6 linked regions of the Homo sapiens genome follow. The protein of the gene in region 6 purifies or fractionates together with the protein of the main gene of each other region. This does not show direct contact. Each region holds a gene or a part of one and is shown on either strand. Other genes may lie near its edges. The genes, in order: CLOCK, ALMS1, PPP1R12A, MCM3AP, FKBP15 and POC1A.

What was found.
Region 1: the proteins of POC1A (region 6) and CLOCK purify together in Homo sapiens (co-immunoprecipitation; 2 studies listed by BioGRID and IntAct, with this or other methods). This does not show direct contact.
Region 2: the proteins of POC1A (region 6) and ALMS1 purify together in Homo sapiens (co-immunoprecipitation; one large-scale study listed by IntAct). This does not show direct contact.
Region 3: the proteins of POC1A (region 6) and PPP1R12A purify together in Homo sapiens (affinity purification with mass spectrometry; one large-scale study listed by BioGRID and IntAct). This does not show direct contact.
Region 4: the proteins of POC1A (region 6) and MCM3AP purify together in Homo sapiens (co-immunoprecipitation; one large-scale study listed by IntAct). This does not show direct contact.
Region 5: the proteins of POC1A (region 6) and FKBP15 purify together in Homo sapiens (affinity purification with mass spectrometry; one large-scale study listed by BioGRID and IntAct). This does not show direct contact.

What each region holds. Positions count from the first base shown.
Region 1 is NC_000004.12:55,456,410-55,459,909, forward strand, and holds part of CLOCK (circadian locomoter output cycles protein kaput), read right to left. Parts: intron 2,853-3,500; coding exon 2,739-2,852; intron 2,602-2,738; coding exon 2,483-2,601; intron 1-2,482. UniProt on the Homo sapiens protein: Transcriptional activator which forms a core component of the circadian clock.
Region 2 is NC_000002.12:73,608,126-73,610,416, reverse strand, and holds the end of ALMS1 (centrosome-associated protein ALMS1), read right to left. Parts: intron 1,943-2,291; coding exon 1,843-1,942; intron 850-1,842; coding exon 805-849; 3' UTR 501-804; downstream 1-500. UniProt on the Homo sapiens protein: Involved in PCM1-dependent intracellular transport. Required, directly or indirectly, for the localization of NCAPD2 to the proximal ends of centrioles.
Region 3 is NC_000012.12:79,925,098-79,928,597, forward strand, and holds part of PPP1R12A (protein phosphatase 1 regulatory subunit 12A), read right to left. Parts: intron 1-3,500. UniProt on the Homo sapiens protein: Key regulator of protein phosphatase 1C (PPP1C). Mediates binding to myosin. As part of the PPP1C complex, involved in dephosphorylation of PLK1. Capable of inhibiting HIF1AN-dependent suppression of HIF1A activity.
Region 4 is NC_000021.9:46,240,612-46,244,111, reverse strand, and holds part of MCM3AP (germinal-center associated nuclear protein), read left to right. Parts: intron 1-389; coding exon 390-647; intron 648-1,112; exon of another isoform or gene 1,113-1,180; coding exon 1,181-1,310; exon of another isoform or gene 1,311-3,094; coding exon 3,095-3,301; intron 3,302-3,500.
Region 5 is NC_000009.12:113,169,278-113,172,777, forward strand, and holds part of FKBP15 (FK506-binding protein 15), read right to left. Parts: intron 2,430-3,500; coding exon 2,304-2,429; intron 1,353-2,303; coding exon 1,245-1,352; intron 666-1,244; coding exon 1-665. UniProt on the Homo sapiens protein: May be involved in the cytoskeletal organization of neuronal growth cones. Seems to be inactive as a PPIase. Involved in the transport of early endosomes at the level of transition between microfilament-based and microtubule-based movement.
Region 6 is NC_000003.12:52,095,424-52,098,923, forward strand, and holds part of POC1A (POC1 centriolar protein homolog A), read right to left. Parts: intron 1,290-3,500; coding exon 1,146-1,289; intron 1-1,145.

The sequences.
Region 1 (3,500 bases), on a different chromosome or scaffold from region 6:
CCCAGCACTTTGGGAGGCTGAGGTGGGCAAATCACTTAGGTCAGGAGTTTGAGACCAGCCTGGCCAACATGGTGAAACCCGATTTCTACTAAAAATACAAAAAATAGCAGGGCACGGTGGCGGGCACCTGTAATCCCAGCTATTCGGCAGGCTGAGGCAGCAGGATCACTTGAACCCAGGAGGTGGAGGTTAAATAAATACATAAATAAATAGTCATTACTAGATAAACTTTTCCTAAACAAGTTAGTTGTTTCTATGTATGTATATATTTACCTATTTCTTTGTTTGACACAGGGTCTCACTCTGTCACTCAGCCTGAAGTACAGTGGTGTGATCTCAGTTCACTGCAGCCTCAACATCCTAGGCTCAAGCGATCCTCCTGCCTCAGCTTCCCAAGTAGCTGGGACTATAGGGATGCACCACCACGCCCGGCTAATTTTTGTATTTTTATTTGTAGAGGTGGGGGGTCTATGTTGTCTAGGCTGGTCTTCAACTCCTGGGCTCAAGCAACCTGCCCACCACAGCCTCCCAAAGTGCTGGGATTCTAGGCATAAGCCAAAATGCAGGCCCTTCTAAACAAGTTAATATATTTTAATTTTCCAGTACTAAAGAATGTGGTAATAAATAACCTTTAGATGCAAGCTTTTGGGTGGGTACTTCTCACTCTACACATTTTCCATTCACACATGCCTATAAACGCTTATTCAAAATTCAGACCTCTCTCCTGAATTACAGTTCCATATTTCCAAATATCTGAATGTCCTCATACATCTCAAATTCAATATGTCCTAAAATAAACTAACTGCTTTACTCCTCACACCCAATCACACAATTTTCCGTATTATTCTATACATGTGTAGTGGCCAGTGTCTAGAAATCTGATAGTTAAAAAAACATACTCTTTCATTTTTACCTTTCATCATCTAAGTGGCCATTACTAAATCTTTTCCATTTCATCTAAGTATTTTAAAAATCAATTCTATCTCATCCATCTTGAGTGCATTGGTTTAGACCCCTGCCATCACTGATTTGCTACAGTGTTCACCAGTCTCCCTGTCCTTCAACTCATCTTCTCTTCTAGGGCCACAATTACCTTACCAATACTCAAATATTATATGACTTCCCTGCTAAAAAACCTTCAGTGGTTCCTTGTGCTAAACTCTCTTCAGCATGGAGAAATAAACAAGAAAGAAACAAATTTTATTTCTGGTTTCTGATTACTTTTCTAGCCTTACCTCCCACTATCTCTTCCCCCTCCACACACTAACCCTAGACTCTAGTCATACTAAACAATGTATTCCATCCTGCCTCTGTGTCCCTGAATGACCTGCAGCACTCTGTAATAGTTGAGAGCTTGGGCTTTGAGAAAAAAACAATTATTAATTAATAGAATCAAGTCCCAGTTTCATCACTAATAGCTGAGACTTTGGGCAAGTCACTTAACTTCCCTAAGCCTGTTTCCTTATAATGTAAAATGAGGGATCGTAATGGCATCTAACTTATAGGGTTGTCATAAGAATTAATGAGATAATGCATATAAAATACACAGCATGTAGTAAGCACTCAAATGTTAACAACTATTATTTCATAAGATCAAAACAAACCAAGCAAGACTGGCTTAAGATCTTCTATTAATTCAGTACTTTGTCCTATACTATGATGTCCCCCCAAATTTATTTGAGACAGAGTCAGACTCTGTCTCAAAATAAAATGCAAACACAGTTCACTGCAGCCTCGACCTCCTGGGCTCAAATGATCCTCCTGCCTCAGCCTCCTGAGTAACTGAGACCACAGGTGTGTAACACCATGCCTGGCTAATTTTTTGTATTTTTTGTAGAGATGGGGTCTTGTCACGTTGCCCAGGCTGGTCTCAAACTACTGGGCTCAGGCAATCCTCTCGCCTTGCTCTCCCAAAGTGCTGGGATTACAGGCATGAGTCACCTCGCCTGGCCCCGCCGAAATTTTAAATCTTAGCCTGGCTGCCTCTTTCCAGTCAGTTTCTAGTGGTTAACTCTTTCACTTTCCCACTTCCCTACTTGTCATCTGTTTGTTGGGTCCAGGAAATAAAAATAAAATACCTAATTTTACATTTGAAAAGGTAAGTTATATGTGGCAAAGAGCCACTTGTACATTTCAAATAAAAATTTAAAAGTTACCTTCTAAAAATAAAGATTCCAAAAACCTAGATTTTTGGACTTTCCCTTTTAATAGAGATAATGAACAACACACAAAAGGATCCTAAAATCTTCCACAAAAGTAGGGCAATATTGATATATAATAATCACTGGTTAACTGCAAAGGATATATACTAAAAAATTAGTTATACAATTTAATGAGTGTCTTGATAACTCATCGTTTCAAAAATATTATCATGCATATTTAATGACTCATAGCCATTCCACCTCAATGTCTGCAGGAAGTTTCAGGCAGCTCTCAGCATATGAACTGAAATCCCCTTTGGGAAATAAAATTAAAAACATACCTTGATGAACTGAGGTGTAGCTAACCTGACAGTAGCTACAAAACAAACTCTATCTTCATAAGATGGCCTATGTGTGCGTTGTATAGTTCCTTCAAAACCATTGTGTGCTGAAGAGGATACTAAAACAATAGGGAAATATGTATCATCAGTTATGCCAGCAAAACCTAATTGTCACTGATATTCAAACATCTATGTCTTTAAGAGCACAGAAAAATAACAAGTTAAAACACATTGTGAGAGAAGCATTTTAACTCACCACTGTTTAAAGATTTGAAATTTCCTATAAATTTTACATATTCATAGGTAGATGGCTCCTTTGGGTCTATTGTTCCTCGCAGCATGTGACAACAGAATTCTAACTGATTTTTTGCTGAAATAAAAGAGATTTTAAAAATCACATATTTCTGATATAAAACAATGATTGATATACCACATAAAGTAAGATCATAAAAGTTGTGTAAGTTTACAACCATTATTTTCCCCAACAGAAGTCGTCAATGACATTTAGTTCATAAAAGTAGAGCACCTTCAGGAGAGGATCTCACTTTGTCTTTAATAGAAAAAATAGATTTTCTGGTGCAAACAACTTAATGTTTCCCTATTTTTAGCTACTCATCCTTTTCATTCTTTACTCACTTTCAAAGGAAAGTTTTGCTTCACATTCTAAAGCTAATCCTTCCATCTCTACCATTTATAGTCTTTCCTATTTTCTCTAGGACCCGGGCCACATCACTGTTCCTTATTCCTTTAGCATCTACACCTTTGGGTCCTTACTTTCTTCTTTTTTTTGAGACAGGGTCTTGATTTGTCACCCAGGCTGGAGTGCAGTGGCATGATCACTGCTCACTGTGGCATTGAACTCCTGGGCTCAAGTGAGCCCCCTGCCTCAGCCTCCCAAGTACGCAAGACTACAGGTGTGAGCCACCATGCCTGGCTAATTTTTAATTTTTTATAGAAATGGGGTCTCACTATGTTGCCCAGGCTGGTTGCAAGCTTCTAGGCTCAAGCAATCCTCCTG
Region 2 (2,291 bases), on a different chromosome or scaffold from region 6:
AAAAAAAAAAAAAAAATCCTGTTACATTCTGATCCAGTTACTGGGTTAAATGCTTTATCTCATTCATTGACTCATCTTTTTCACAAGTTGTCCTTTATGTTGTAAGTGTTGGTTTCACGTGTAATGATAAATGGTCTGAGGCTTTAATCCCAAAACCGAGTGTGGGTGGAGGAAGATCCATCAGCCAAGGCTAGTGGCCTTTCTCCCCAGCCTACACAGAGAGTCCCTGGGGGAGCTGGACTGGGGCTGAAAGGAGGCTCTGGACCCAAGACACCTCTCCTGCTGCAGTCTCTGGGTGCACCCGGTGGGCATCTAACCAGACACCGTCTCCTCAAAGCCCACAACAGTGCTCCCACTACAGCACATTGTGTTTCTAAAGATACAGGCTACATTTCCTTCTAAGAGCCCATTTCCCTCAACTGATGCATTTAGACACCTCGGTGGAGACAATGCATAGCTCCTTGCATCTCTCCAGATGGGAAAGAATTGTTTACTATGAGTTAATCTAAAGTTTTTATTTTCTAAAAGTATAAAAACACATACAAAAAGGGACTTATTCTTGAGAAATGATCATATCATTGTAACACACAGGCCATTGGACAAGGCCACTATGCAGAAAGTATTGCTCCCAAACCATTAGGAATTTTAATCACCACTTTGTTCCAGACTCTTTAGAAGTTACTATTTCTAAAATACACATGGACAAAGAATAAGCTTTATTCAACCAGACTCACAAAAGTAAGGATTCTGCTTCTCTAGGTTCATAAAATAGAATTCCAAGGCTCTGAGGAAAATAAACTTGTGTCAGTCCCAGGGAACTTTTCTCCCCAGAAGTTGATTGGTCACTCTCTGTAGAAGAAAAGAAAGGCAGGAAAGAAGTTAGATATTACTGCCATCAGAGGCAGATGCCTCTCCTCCCTGCATCCATGTCACCAAGGAGAATCAGTGTGGTCCTATTCAAATCTTGTTCATTTTACTCTGCTTCAGAAACTATGGTCGTCATATAAAAAATACTTCACGAAAGGTTCAGGAAAGAGGATCTGTAATCAATATCTATTATTTCTATAGAGACACAGATAATCCATCAGTTCCCACATACAGTAGCATAAGGAGAGGCCTGGCCCTGCGATGCTGACACACCAGACAGGTGGTGTGGTGCCTGGGGCCTCCACCTGAGGCACCCGCCTGGGTTCTGGGGCCTGCTCCAGAAGCAGCTCCCATCCCACATCAGTCTGGTGACTGACAGGGTGAGAAGGAAACAACTACAGTGAAGTATATGGCCCTTCAGGCATAGGAGCCGGTCTGGTTTCTCAGAGAATTAACTGGTAACACCAACCCTGCCCCGTGAGGTTCTTGGACTTGCAGCAACGCTGACTCTACTGGGACAATGGGCAGGGCATGGTGACAAGTTGGAGGCCTCTGACCATCCAAGTGGACAACTCTTATGCCGCAGTTACACATTTTCCAGTTTAACAGTTCTAAAGGTATCTGACTCACCAATGAGGGGCATGAAATCACCACCTGGGACTCTGGAATGGAAACCTGATAATTCTGGTATTTCTACCATGATATGTCAATGAACTCCTGTGTGTGAAATTTGGTTTCACTGCAAACGAATGCATGGAAAGGGCCTTACACCATTATGGATGGGGAGTTAAACCTGATTTGAAGTCTAATTACAGATGCCTTCTTCCAAATTTCAACACTGGTCCAGTGCATTCTAAGTTCATTCCTCAAATGCGGTTCATTCTGACTTCACACTCAACAGGCAACGTGTTTTCTCCATTTCTCTTTCCGCCAATAAACCTGATCCATCCCACTCTAGACAGAGGACCCACTGACCTTTTTATATAGCTGGGCTCGCAGCCGGTATGACTTATATTCTGATTTTCTCTTCTCTTCTTCTCTCTTTTTCTGTACTTCTGGAAGCTGCTCATAAATCCTTAGAAATGGCACCAGTGAAAGGACAGAAATCGGGGAGGTTACCAGGGTGCAGAGTCATGAGATCTCCTCTCATCATCCCTCCCTATACCTCCCACTCTCCAGGAGCTCATCCCTCTCAGAAAGGCCCTGGGCCCCGTTAGATACTCCAGCACAGAAAACCCTAGCCCGGGGCTCACAATCTGGAAGGGGAGATAAATACAAACACAATAAAATCCTAATAGTGCTTACATGTGGAAAGAAGTGGGATAAAGGGGGGAAAGGAGTGAGATAAATGAAGGAGAGCTGAACTTCTACTTTCTGCTCTACATGCAAAAATGGACTGTTTCAATATAAGATAATGAACAGCG
Region 3 (3,500 bases), on a different chromosome or scaffold from region 6:
ATGTTCTGGAGCTGAAACTCCAACAGAAAAGCTCTAGAAGTGTTCCATGCAAGAATATAAATATTCAAATAAGTTTATAACCATCTAAAACAATTTTGAAGGCTAATAAAATATATATAATTTGGGATGTTTATTACAAGTAAAGGTTGAGTGCATACGTGTACGTGTGTGTGTGTGTGTGTGTAACAGTCCATGAAAATATACTTTCCCACATGGTTATTAATCTTTAAGAGGGTGCCAAGTGACATCTCACAAAATGTATTCTCCTCTGCACTATGCAGTATTCAAGAAAATGACATGAGCTTTGTACAATCTTATGATTTTATTGTTAGAGGTCATGTTAAACTAAGAAAATAGTAATTTCAGCTCAAATGTGAGTTAAATCATCAAGTTAAAGTAAAGCTTTTTATTAAGTGAAGCTCTCTCTGCAGAATATCTCACTTAATATACATAACATTTAAATAGACTACTAAAAAAGTGACAGCTGAGGAATGCTTTCACTTCTTTCCATGGTTTCTACTGAATGTCATTTCAGAAATGCCTATACAACACATGACAATGTGGAATGTCTCCTCCCATGAAAGAGCATTTGAGTTGAGCAGCAAGCACACTTAGGGCAGTAACACAGAACTCAAGCGTGTCTTTTTATGGTTAGCCAGCATAACAATGCAAAGATAAACAACCAAAACACTAATAAGGTCAGAAAATACTGACATAGAGGGAGCCATAGTAAAAATGTTATTTGGAAAAAAAAAGTATCAGTAAAATAACAGAAAATATGCATTATTTCTAATATTACCATGCTAGAGATTTCTTTTCTTTTTCTTTCTTTTCTTTTCTCTTTATTGGTAGAGACACCGTCTCCCTATATTGCCCAGGCTGGTCTTGAACTTCTGGGATCAAGTCTCTTGCCTTGGCTTCTCAAAGTGCTGGGATTACAGGTGTGAGCCACTGCATCCAGCCTAGAGATTACTTTTCTAAATGAACACTCAAGGATTTGTTTAAAGAATTTTTAAACTAAGTTACATAAACTGAAGCGTCTATTGATAATCAGTAATAGATCTCATTTCAAAAATAAATCTAACATCCCAATAATTTTTTTCTTTAAGACAGAATCTCGCTCTGTCGCCCAGGCTGGAGTGAAGAGGCATGATCTCAGTTCACTCCAACCTCTGCCTCTTGGGTTCAGGCGATTCTCGTGCCTCAGCCTCCTGAGTAGCTGGGATTACAGGCATGCGCCACCATGCCTGGCTAATTTTTATTTTGTATTTTTAGTAGAGATGGGGTTTTGCCATGTTGGCCAGGTTGATCTCAAATTCCTGAGCTCAGGTGATCCGCCTGCCTAGGCCTCCCAAAGTGCTAGGACTACAGGCGTGAGCCACCATACCCAGCCACCTAATAAATGTTTTGATTGTAATAATGGCTACCTTTACATTGTAAGTATTATAAAAGTAAGTGGTTGATATAAGCTTTTTTATTAGGACATTTTAAAAGTTTGTCAGTGTGTTACACTTACCCAATTATTTAATATTCTATGAATTCTGCTCTTCAAAATATTAGTTTACATTGTGTCCAATTTTTTTTAATCATTAAATATTTATTGTGTACCTACTAAAACAAAATGCCGATACAAAAGGAGATTTAAAGAAAAAAAGAATCAAAGTCCCTACCTTAAGGGTATATAAGGGACTTCTTCCCCCCCACCCCCAGTATCCATGGTATGAAGTTTCCTACAATTTGTCTCTAAAAAGAATCAAATATGTACATGTACGTATGTATAAAAAATTTACTGTAAATGATTAAAAAAAACTAAAACAGGCTAAGTGCAGTGGCTCACGCCTGTAATCCCAGCACTTTGGGAGGCTGAGGTGGGAGGATCACTTGGGCCCAGAAGTTTGAGACTAGCTTGGGCAACACGGGGAGACTCTGTCAAAGAAAAAAAAAAATTAGCTGGAAGTGGTGGCACATGCCTGTATTCCCAGCTGATCGGGAGGCTGAGGTGGGAGGATCACTTGAGCCCAGGAAGGCTACAGTGAACTATGTTCATGCCACTGCACTCCAGCCATGGTGACAGAGTCTGTCACCCTGTCTCAAAACACACATACACACACCACACCCACACACACACCCAACAACTGAAACGATATAAATTGCTATTAGGGTAAAGAAAAATAAAGGTAGTTAAAAATTAAATTCTATGTCCTGAAAAAAGGAGTGTTTCTTGTTGCTGCTGATATATTCTGCACATAATGGTAAGTCAAAAATAATCTTGGCACTTCCTAAAATTTAGGACAATTTCGAATTCTGAGATTAATTTAGATACAGTACTACTGCACTTCAATTACCATAGAAAGGTCTTAAAAGTATGGGCTAGCTAAAACAAATGTGGATGAAGAAAAAAATTATATGTGTGTTTCACTTGATTTTCAGCTAATTTACAGAGAAACCTCCAATTACTAAACACCACCATAATGATGAAAAGATTTAAGAATATTTTCTTCTTCAGACTTCAAAGAAGATACCTGGCATAGGGTAAAGTTTGAGTTTCGGCATCAAACAGACCTGCATAAGAATTCCAGCTCTGCCATTTATTTTCTTGTTAACTTTGAGCAAGTGAAAAAGCATGTTGTGAAAATTAAACTATTGTTTGGAAAAGCACTGCTCCTCAATAAAACACTGATTAAGTCATGGCTACTACATATCTGACTCCAACTGAGAATAAACTTATAATTGTTGGAGTTCTTCAACCTTTCAAAGAGGTATACCAAAATGCCAATACCTCATCATCTTCTCAACCTTATTGTGGAGCCCCACAAACTTTCAAAAGAAGGGTGGAGTAAAAGATGGCAATTTTTTGCAGGCAGAGGCAATGAAAATAGCAACTTCATATAGTGTCAAGAAGTAACATGTTATGGTAGTAACAAAACAACGTTTTATGCCTCCCCCTATTAAAAGGTTTTTAAATAGTTTTCTTTTAAAAATCATCTAATAAGATTTTTAAAACACTTTTCTTATGTGAACTGTAATTTTTAAATGTGGTAATAACAAATGGATGATGAAAAACACTTCCTCTATTCCATCCAGTGTTTCTACCTGGCTATAGAAAATGCTCAGTCACAGCTTGCAATCATACTGTAGCTGAGGCACATGAAAGATGGTCTTGGTTATGACACCTCAAAGTCAGACCACAAAAGTGTTGCCAGGAAGCACAGAGGCAGCAACTACAGAAAAAGCATTAGAACAGCAGCAGTGTGGGCACTGGTGCCCTACCAGCACACCCCATATATGGCTAGGGTTGCCCACTTATTTGTAGGAAGTGAGGGGCCAGTTTGGGGTTGGGAGGGTTTTATTTGTTTGTTTAGGTAGGTTTTTAAAAATGGATTTAGGATGATTTCAATAAAAACTTTTGAAAGGCATGAGCATAAAGTGTTACAGCTTTTCTAAAAAGAAAACTATGCAGAGAAATATTTTACACTGCACATTCTTTTAGACACAAATTT
Region 4 (3,500 bases), on a different chromosome or scaffold from region 6:
TTGAAGGAACCCAAAGGGAAGCAAACCACTCAGCACAAGCCCTCGGTGCTCTGGTTAGGTTGGGGTTCCCCAAAATAAGCTAAGACTGCTTATACCAGACTCATCTGGGTGCTTGTTAAAATACAGATTTCCTAGGCACAACCACAGGCCTGTACAGTCAGAACTTCTGGGTAGAACTTGGCTAGCAACACTGTTAAGGGGGACTGTCTGCATCCCTCACCTAGACCCTGGGAGCAAGCTGCTCTTCCCCCTCAACAACTGTGGTTCTGCTGTGTTTAGAAAGCAGACTTCTCAACTTCACAGTTGCCTTCTCCTGAGAAAATGTTTTCATGTACATTTTCACCTGTATTTTGGCCAAACCTGTAACTAATGAGGCACTTTCTCCCCAGCCCCCTGGCTCCCCGTGTGCTCCATGGTTGTCCAGTACGCCTCCCAGATCCCCAGCTCACGCCAGACACAGCCTGTCCTCCAGTCCCAGGTGGAGAACCTGCTCCACAGAACCTACTGTAGGTGGAAGAGCAAGAGTCCCTCCCCAGTCCATGGGGCAGGCCCCTCGGTCATGGAGATCCCATGGGATGATCTTATCGCCTTGTGTATCAACCACAAGCTGAGAGACTGGACGCCCCCCCGGCTTCCTGTTACATCAGGTAATTAGAGCTTGATGCAATGGGATCAGCTCCTCACGAGACTTTCCTGGTCCAGTTTCTGCAAAGGAAGATGTTTAGTTGATGTTGCTGCTTTTCTTTTGGGTCTCTATCCTTCCTTTCCTTAGGACTTCCCTCTTCAAGTGAGTGACTTAAAAACATTGAGACAGGCTAGGAAGTTTCTGGTAGAGCCTGAACTCACCTCCCTGAAACAGGCCCCCTAGGATGGCTCTTAGAGAGGATTTTGTGGCTTTTGAGTAGTCATTACTGGCCCTGCCAGTCTCGATGTAAGCTTGTCTGGACTTTGAGTGATGCATGGACCCTGGGAGCCTATTTAACCCAAGTGTGGAAGTCACATAATTGTGTGACTTTAATCAAAGGTCTTGCACTTAAATCAGTGAATTTAAGCACATGCCACCTGTCGCTGTTTAAATATTATTTGTACCTGTTTTTGTTTTTTTGTGTGTGTTTTTTTTTTTTTTGAGACAGGGTTGGCCAGGCTGGCCTCTTTATCTGTTTTTGTATTGTTTTCTCAGAGGCGCTGAGTGAAGATGGTCAGATATGTGTGTATTTTTTTAAAAACGATTTGAAAAAATATGATGTTCCTTTGTCGTGGGAACAAGCCAGGTTGCAGACGCAGAAGGAGCTACAGCTGAGAGAGGGACGGTGAGGTTCATGTTCAGTATGTTTCTGTTGCTTGCTAAACTGTATTTTTCTTGCAAAGTAAATAGAAATTAACATCCTACATGCCAAATCCAGTCCACTGTGGGCAGACTGTGACAAATCCTCAAGGAACAGATCATTCCCATGCAGTAGAAACTATTCTAGAACAAAGTTAAAGCATCTCACTTCATTTATCAGGCATACCTGACCCTGAAATCATACCTAACCAGGAGAGTACAGCTGACATTTCATCTCACTTCCAAATTTGGTTCCAAAGCACAGTACCTAAAAAAGTTCACAAGTATGCTTTCTCCCAGGATAAACAATAACAGTGAAAATCTATTAATGTAATTTGTTGCCATAATAGAAAAATAAGTGGTAATTTTAGCAGGCGTTGAAATACGTTTCTTAAAATTTATACCTGTTCCTGATAAAATTTCTTTATTTTGGGTACTTTCTTTAGCTTGGGTTAAAAAAAAAAAAAGTCCTAACTTGATAAGGCTACCTAACATAAAACTACCAAAATAGAAAAAAAACATGCTTCTTGGTAGAATGTTAGGAACAGTGGAATCAGAACCAGCCTGTTGTCCCGACTATTATTCACTATTGTCCTGGAAATCCTGACCAGTACAGGGATGTGGGATAGACAGGCACAAATACTGAAAGGAAGGAGAAACTGTCATTTCCAGACAGTACAGTTGTCAGTCCAAGAAAAGTCAAGTCCATAGAACCATTCTCAGTTCAATAAGGTGATCAGATAGATAGATCCACAACATGTTAAAAAAAAAAAAATTCTCATTCACAACAATAAACCTGAACAGAAAGGGCACAGGATGGTGGAACTTTGCTGTTCCTTCTTGTTCCCCATAGAGATCCTTGAAGTACCTTCTCCAACTCCATGATACTCTAAAAACTGTTCATCTTCATAATAGGAGTGGAGCCTAATCCTTGGTCTCCTCACCTCCTGGTTTCCCGGAATGTCTTTCTCATTAACATATGAGTTCTCAGGGCCTGTATGTGCAAAGGAAACCTGAACCATTGAGGTTCAGACTAGGTTGTTGACAGGATACAATGCTGTGAAGATGTCAGTACTGGTAAGTTCTAAAATTCATCAGGATAAACAAATATGCATCAATTGCTGAGAAAGTTTTAAATAAGACTAACATGGTTTGCTTGGCCTGATACCAAGACATACAGTAAAGCTCCAGTACTTAAAACCATGTGGGGATGCCAGAGTAGATAAATGGATCAGAATAAAGAGTCAGAATATGTGACAAAAGTGTTAGGCCAAATTATTGAAATTAGTGGGGAAAAGACAAACATTGGCATGTGTTTAGAAAAAAATGTCAGATGCCTTCTCTCTCACCATTTGTAAACATTACTTCCAAATGTATCCAAGAGCTATCTATAAAAAACCTTGCCAATACTAGGGAAGAACAGAATCTGGAACCCTAGGGTGGGAAGCAAGACATGAAGCAGAGAAGCTCCAAAAACCTAGCTGCCTCTTGAGAGCAGAAGCTTCCAAGAGGAACAGGCAGTCTCAATGCCTCTGTGCATAAGGGTCCCTACAGTGCAGGGGCTGCCTTCCCTCTTTGCTCCACTCCCTGACTTGATGGAAGCTTGGAAGCAGGCATGGGGCCAGCATGAGCTGTTCCAGGAGGGCACATGTGTCTGAGGCACATGTTCTTACATGTTAATGCACATGTGCAAATGTATCTACATGCTTTACATGATGCTGTAGAAATATTTTCTCTTGACCATAAACATTTCAAATCATGTACTTACAGTTTGGCAATAAAGCCTTTTCATCCTTCTGCAAACAATTTTCCCATACCATTGCTTCACATGCACCGTAACTGGAAGAGGAGCACAGAGTGTGCTCAAGAGGGGAGGATTCCCAGCACAGAGGATCTGATGCGAGGAGCTTCTGCTGAGGAGCTCTTGGCGCAGTGTTTGTCGAGCAGTCTGCTGCTGGAGAAAGAAGAGAACAAGAGGTGAAGCCCACTTCCTTCTAATTCATGTGTGTTTAGTCTGCTTTATGCTGTGAGGGGAGACTGGTTATTGCTTGATTAATATAAGACAGCCAGGATGGAGAAGGGCAGGTGGATTATTAGCAACAGTTTTAGTGATGTAACTATTTAAAAGCTCTTTGAAGACAGAAGCAGTGCCCTAGATAGTATGTTTCTAACTGTT
Region 5 (3,500 bases), on a different chromosome or scaffold from region 6:
CCTGCCTCTGTGCTTGACAGCTCCTTGTGGGGACCGGTGGAGCTAGTGACATCATCTTTCTTGAGCTGTGGAGGCTGAGGCTCTCCTGGGCTTTCAGGCCCTAAGGCCAGTGGGTCCCCCTCCTCGGGGTCTGAAGTCAGGGACAGTCTTGTGGAGCTTTCTTGTAGTGGGCCATCTGGTGCTACTTCCCTGACACAGACCTTTCCTGATGGGTTGTCGGGCTTAGCTGCCATTGGGCTGGCAGCAAGTGACTCCTCACACTCAGAGTCCATGGATACAGGGCCTAGGGGCTCAGGTGGAATTGAAGTCGGGGGCCCTAGAACTCTGTGGGATGGGATGCAAGACAGTTCGGGTGGAAGGGAACCATCTTTTATCTCTGAGAGTGCCTCAGCTTCTGAGTCCCCTTTCCTTCTGTGTCCATCCTGGGAAGTGGTGAGGGCCTGAGGAGGCAACGGGACAGCTTCCTCGACCACCTGCTCTGAGGGCACCATGGGGGACTCTGGCCTCTCCCTATTCAGGGGTGCTTGAGGCTGCCCAGAACTGGCTGAGGCTGACTGCTCCTGGGAAGGTCTTCGTGGCCGCTCTTCTGCTTTTTCTTCTTCTTCTTCACTGCTGCTCTCTTCCTTCTCTTGCTCCTGTTGGTTTAACAGCTGAAGAGTCACCATCTATTCAAAAGCCAAGGAAGAGATGGTCACTGAAAGGAACACAGTAGCCACTCCTAATTCTTATTAACACTACTGGTCATGTAGTTTAAATGACTTTGCTTCTTTCCTGTTAAAAGAGGCTGACTATATCTGTCAAGTCACTCCAGGCATCCTAATTACTGAGGAACAGTCCTGAATAATTTTCTTTTTTTTTTCTTTGGAGACAGGGTCTTGCTCTGTTATCCAGGCTGGAGTGCAGTTGGGGGCAATCATGGCTCACTGTAGTCTTGAACTCCTGGGCTCAAGTGATTCTCCTGCCTCAGCCTCCCAAGTAGCTGGGACTACAGGCACGTGCCACCATACCCGGCTAATTTTTAAATTTTTAATTTTAGTAGAGACAAAGTCTCATTATGTTGCCCAAGCTGGTCTCAAGCTCCTGGCCTCAAGCAGTCCTCCCACCTTGGCCTCCCAAAATGCTGGGATTACAAGCATAAGCCACTGTGCCAGCTTTGAACAATTTTTTATTCATGATCCCTTAGAAGGTACTTAAGCAACAAAATGCCCAATACGATGAAACAAATGACAGCTGGCTGGCTGTACCTTGATCGTATTCATGATGGTTCCCAGAATGGTCCTGCCATTGTAAGATTCCTCCAGCTCAAACTCTCTCCGTAAGGACTGGAACACCTGGTTCATGATCTTCTTGACCTGTGTGAACATCAAAACACATGCTGTCAAAATCAAGTCACTAAAGGATGCATTAAATTCCAGAGAGGTGTATGGAAGGCCAAAATGAAGCCATCTTAGATCTCTACACTGGGATACTGCTGGTCATAAGCAGAGACACTGAAGGCTGTCACTGTGGAGAGGATGATATTAAATAATGAGCAGCACTTTGACAGAAGGGCTAGTCATGAGAGTTACCTATCAAGGGCAGGCAAGCTGTGGTCTGTGTGCCCAAGACTGCTTAAAGACCATTTCTTGATGTCCCCCTCCCACTGTGAGCACCACTAGGAGCTGCCATAGGCTCTAAGGGTCAGAGGCCAGTGGATGCTGGGCACACTCCCCAAGCCCCATTCTTCTTCTGTGGTTAGAGGCCCTTCCTATACCTGTCAAAACCTCAGAAAGATAGGGTTCTTTTGGGTTTGCCACTTAATATGTAAGTATGTATTTGTTTGTTTTCCCACTAGGCTGTAAGCTCCTTAAACTCAAGAACCAAATCTGGGCCGGGCATGGTGGCTCATGCCTGTAATCCCAGCACTTTGGGAGGCTGAGGCAGGCGGATCACAAGGTCAAGAGACCGAGACCATCCTGGCCAACATGGTGAAACCCTGTCTCTACTAAAAATACAAAAATTAGCTGGGTGTGGTGGCGCGTGCCTGTAGTCCCAGCTACTCAGGCGGCTGCGGCAGGAGAATCGCTTGAACCTGGGAGGCGGAGGTTGCAGTGAGCCAAGATCACATCACTGCACTCTAGCCTGGTGACAAAGTGAGACTCCGTCTCAAACAAACAAACACCAAATCTGGTTCATTTTAAAGTCATCAGACAAGTAAAACATCACTAAAGTTAGAAAAAGAGCTATTAACACAACATACTGGCCATGTTCTTTCTGAATGCTTGATATAAATGGCTTGCTTCTCATTTGAAATACCAGCTCACCTTCTCTGAGGGGTCAGATGCAGCAGCTTCAACCCCAGACATCTGGGACTTGTTCTTCTCTAGTTCCTTGATGTGCTGTTCATTTTGCTTGGTGAGAGCTGTGATTTGGGCCTGGAGGGCTAAACACTGCAAAACAAACAGACTGTGGCTGTGGCCTCAGGAACCAGGTGAAGGTCAGAAAACCCAAGGGGAGGAGAACCACCCAAACATCAAGTCTCTTTTTTTTTTTTTTGCATATAATAAAAAGACAATTTTATTTCAAATTCTTTTTTTTTATTATTATTATACTTTAAGTTCTAGGGCACATGTGCACAATGTGCAGGTTTGATGCATAGGTATACATGTGCCATGTTGGTGTGCTGCACCCATCAACTCATCATTTACATTAGGTATTTCTCCTAATGCTATCCCTCCCCCCGTCCCCCAACCCCCGACAGGCCCCGGTGTGTGATGTTCCCCGCCCTGTGTCCAAGTGTTCTCACTGATCAATTCCCACCTATGAGTGAGAACATGCAGTGTTTGGTTTTCTGTCCTTGTGATAGTTTGCTGGGAGTGATGGTTTCCAGCTTCAACCATGTCCCTGCAAAGGACATGAACTCATCCTTTTTTATGGCTGCATAGTATTCCATGGTGTATATGTGCCACATTTTCTTAATCCAGTCTATCACTGATGGACATTTGGGTTGGTTCCAAGTCTTTGCTATTGTGAATAGTGCCACAATAAACATACATGTGCATGTGTCTTTATAGTAGCATGATTTATAATCCTTTAGGTATATAACCAGTAATGGGATTGCTGGGTCAAATGGTAATTCTAGTTCTAGATCCTTAAGGAATCGCCACACTGTCTTCCACAATGGTTGAACTAATTTACACTCCCACCAACAGTGTAAAAGCGTTCCTATTTCTCCACATCCTCTCCAGAATCTCTAAACATCAAGTCTTAACCTCGCCTAGGTCTGCTGGTGTCCACTCCCTCAGCCCCCACCCACGACCCTCTGCCTCAGAGAGTTCTATCTCCTCATCATTCGACTTCAACGCAAAACTTCACTTTCTCTTTCCCAAGAAGGTTGCTTGCCTTGTTCCCAATCAGGTAAAAAATATAATGAAAAAAGAGCAGGAGGGTAGGTAATAACTAGTCATTTAGACATAAACATTCAGCATTAACAGCAACCCATTTGTCATTCATCTGCAAGA
Region 6 (3,500 bases):
AGGATACCATGCCATCTCAGCTCCATTTCCGTTAGTGACATCAAGGGTCCTTTGCGTCCTTCATGTGAGCTGGACTGGAGACCACTCTTCCTTGCTTCCCCATCCCCCACCCCCTGGCTTTAACACCTCTTTTCCTCGTGGGCCACATGTGTCCCTCTTGCAGCCTCGCTCTACCCATGTGCTGGCATGGTAGAGGAGGATCTGCAGAGTCCCAGCCTGGCCTCAAGAGCCAAGGAGATGAGGAATTGGGGAACCTCTAAATCCTGCCTTGCCCCCCACCCCAAGACCACATATCCACATGACAGCCACCTGGAGCTTCACTCATTCCCTGGACGTGCCCATGGCCTCTCCAGAGCCACAGGCAGCCAGGACCTCTCTTCCTCCCTCGGGTGAAATGGCCCTGCCAAGCATGCCCCTATTGCTGGCCACCACCTCTTGTCAAGGGATTTTGCTCTTACTGAAACTGCTACACTACGAGCCTGTGTTATGGCTGCCAACCTACGCTCCAGAGGGCAGGGCCCATATCCATCTCAGTGACGAGGGTGGTCAGGGCCACAACTAACATTTATTGAGCAGCTACCTAGGGCCAGGCATGGGCCAAACATTTCCCAGATTCATCTCCCTTAATTCTCACCATGAATGTGGCAGGCAGAGCCCACAACCACCAGCACATTACAGATAAACATACCAGGGCTTGGTGAACTAAAGGGATTTCCCCAAGGTTGCACAGAGGATAAGGAAAGGTCCAGGCTCAAACTCATAGCCTAGGTTCTCAGAAGCCCTGACTCACTACTCAGTTCCCTGGCATGCCCCTGCAGTGCCCATCCAGCAAAGAGTGGGAGGAATAAACAAACACAGTGTTTCTTTCAAAGCTCTTCAGTGGCCCAGGCCAGCTCTAGGTGAGCACACTCCAGTAGTACCCAGCATTGGGGATTTTGGAGTCTAGTGGTCTGGCCAGGGCTTGAATGGCTCCAAGAGCCAGGATCCCCGGGAAGGCTCTGCAATGTCATTAATATGGACTGGAAAACAGGTCCGTTATAATTATGTTTTTAAAAATCCAGCACCTGTTGTCCAACTTCAAACGGTCCAAATGCGGGACCAAGTGCAGATGACGGGATGACGGGTGAACCCACAGTGTGGCCTACCTGAGTGAGGACATCCAGCTGGCCCACAATGTGCTCCAGCGTGCTAGTCAGTGTCTGGGGCACACTCACGGGCTCCTGGGGCTGGCTCTGCACAGACTCCACACTCCTGCCTCTGCCTGGGGGGACAGGGAAGTCCACTTCTGGCTAAAGACAGAAAGAAAAAAGTTCCTCAGTCTATCCAGTGCTTGAAGAAATACTGTGAGAGGAATAGCCCCTCCAAAGGATGAAAGGGAAAACCACCAGCAAATTTGAGAAGGTAAGCTCCAAGTGTCAGTAAGAAACAGCAGCGTGGCGGTGTTCCCACATCTGGGTCCACACACATACCTTTCCAGGCAGAGGCCTTAAGTGGGGAGTGGAATCAGAATGCCTTGTGATCCAGGCAGGAAGGGGCCTGGGGAGGAGGGCAGGTAGGCAGGCCAGTGAGTGGCCTCAGCCTGCTCTTGGAGCCCCTCAGGGAAGCTAGCTGCCTCCCATATCTTCAAGCAGCTGGCACCCACCAGCAGGCATCCAGGTGAGTCCAGAGATGCTGAAGCCTGGCCTGGGCCTGAAGTCCCTCCTCTTCCTGGTCAGCTCAACTCTAATTCCCCACCCTTCAACATGGGGGTGTGCCAGGCTTCACAAATGCCTTTCCCAGGCCCAAGAAGCTGTGGCCCAGAACTTGGTGGAAGTGTGTGTGTGGCGGGGAGAGGGGTGTTCCAACCCCACCCTGGCCCAGATCCCCTGGAAAAACAAAGATTTCTGTGTGCATGTCCCAGGCTGGCACATGGCTGGCAGGAATCAGACTCCACAGGAAAGGCACCCCTGGGCTGCTTCAGATAGGACTCCAGGAGGTGAGGGGCTTAGTGTTTCTGCGTAAGGCCCTTCAGCCCCTAAATTCAGCAAAGTCAGCTCCTTGCCTTATGCACAAAGGCTTCTGTGGACCGAAGAAGTGCTGTGCACATGTTCAGTGGGCGGGATGCTGGAGCCAAGGATGTCCAAGGGCAGGGCTGGTCTTAGAGCCTGCAGTTCCTCTGTGGACTTGTTCCTGTGGGAATGTGGTTCAGCACATGGACCCTACCTGCATGTTTTCCTTTATTAGGTAAGTATTCTATTCTCATAGATCACAAACTTTCAAGGGCATGCTGATTTGAACTTGGAAAAATGCTGGCCCTCATGGTAGCTACAGGAGAACTTGAATGTGAGACATGAGCCAGAGGGATGTTCTTGACAGCATGAGCAGCACCGTGTCCACACACCTATCATCAGCATGTCGGCCACTTCCGTGGCCATTTCTAAGACTTCGGCCATCAGGGCTGGGTCTCTTCCAGTCCTCCAGGAATCAACGTGCTTCAGATCTCAATGCTTACCCAGAAGCCCATCCCAAAAGGAAATTTCAGAAGTCCACCAGCCTTGCCAGGAGAGACTTCAGCCTACCACAGTGGCCCCCAGACTAAGGCAGTTCTGTCAGGAGACACAGCAGAGTGCAGTGGTGAGGAATGGTGACTCAGACAGTCACTGACCAGCTCTGGGCCTCCATTTCCTCATCTATAAAATAGGGATGAAGACTGGGCCAGTCCTTCAAACGGCTGGGCTGTGAGAGGTGCTTATCTGAAGCTACCAGCAGGCCTTTCTTAAGAAATGTTCAGTGCTGTGCCCACTCCTTCCAGAGGACCCCCTAGCAGTGCAGACACACACTCTTCCACTGGAGGAAGGGTGTGAGCAGGGAACTCTTCTGTCCCACAGCCAGCATTGTCATGGAATGGGCCAGAGTCTGGTGCTGCTGGCTGCTTAGGAAGGAGGGAATGGAAAATGTGAGTTTCTGCAGAATGGCCCAGAAATGGACAGTGCTGAGCTCAGCCTCTGGAAGCACAGTGGATGCTGCAGGGAGGCAGGGTGAGTACCACTGACTTTAGCAATAGAAACCCTCCTGGATGAGCCAAAGCTGAGCCAGCTCCAAGGGAGTATTAAAGACAGCGGCCATGGCACTCCAAGCTGGAGAGGTGGCCTTTACAACAGAGGGTTGCGGCAGCCACCATGTTTTCCCACCTATACCACACTTTCATGGGCTGTCTCCATTTGACAATAAAGAGAACTAAGGCTCAGTCAGAAAACGACTGTCTAAAGGTAACCAGCCTCAAACTCTAGTGCTGCCCTGAGCCATTTCCCTGCCTCCTTGCCCACTCCCATCAGAAAACACCACAGCACTTAACACTCCACCAGTCCAGCAATCGCCATGGTTTACTTGCCATCCACTGTGTGCCCTCATTTAATGTCACCTCACTTAATACGTGTAACCTCACTTCATCCTTATGATGGCCCTTCCCAATAGGCATTATTAACCTTATTTTTCAGATATGGACCCTTGGGCTCAAAGAG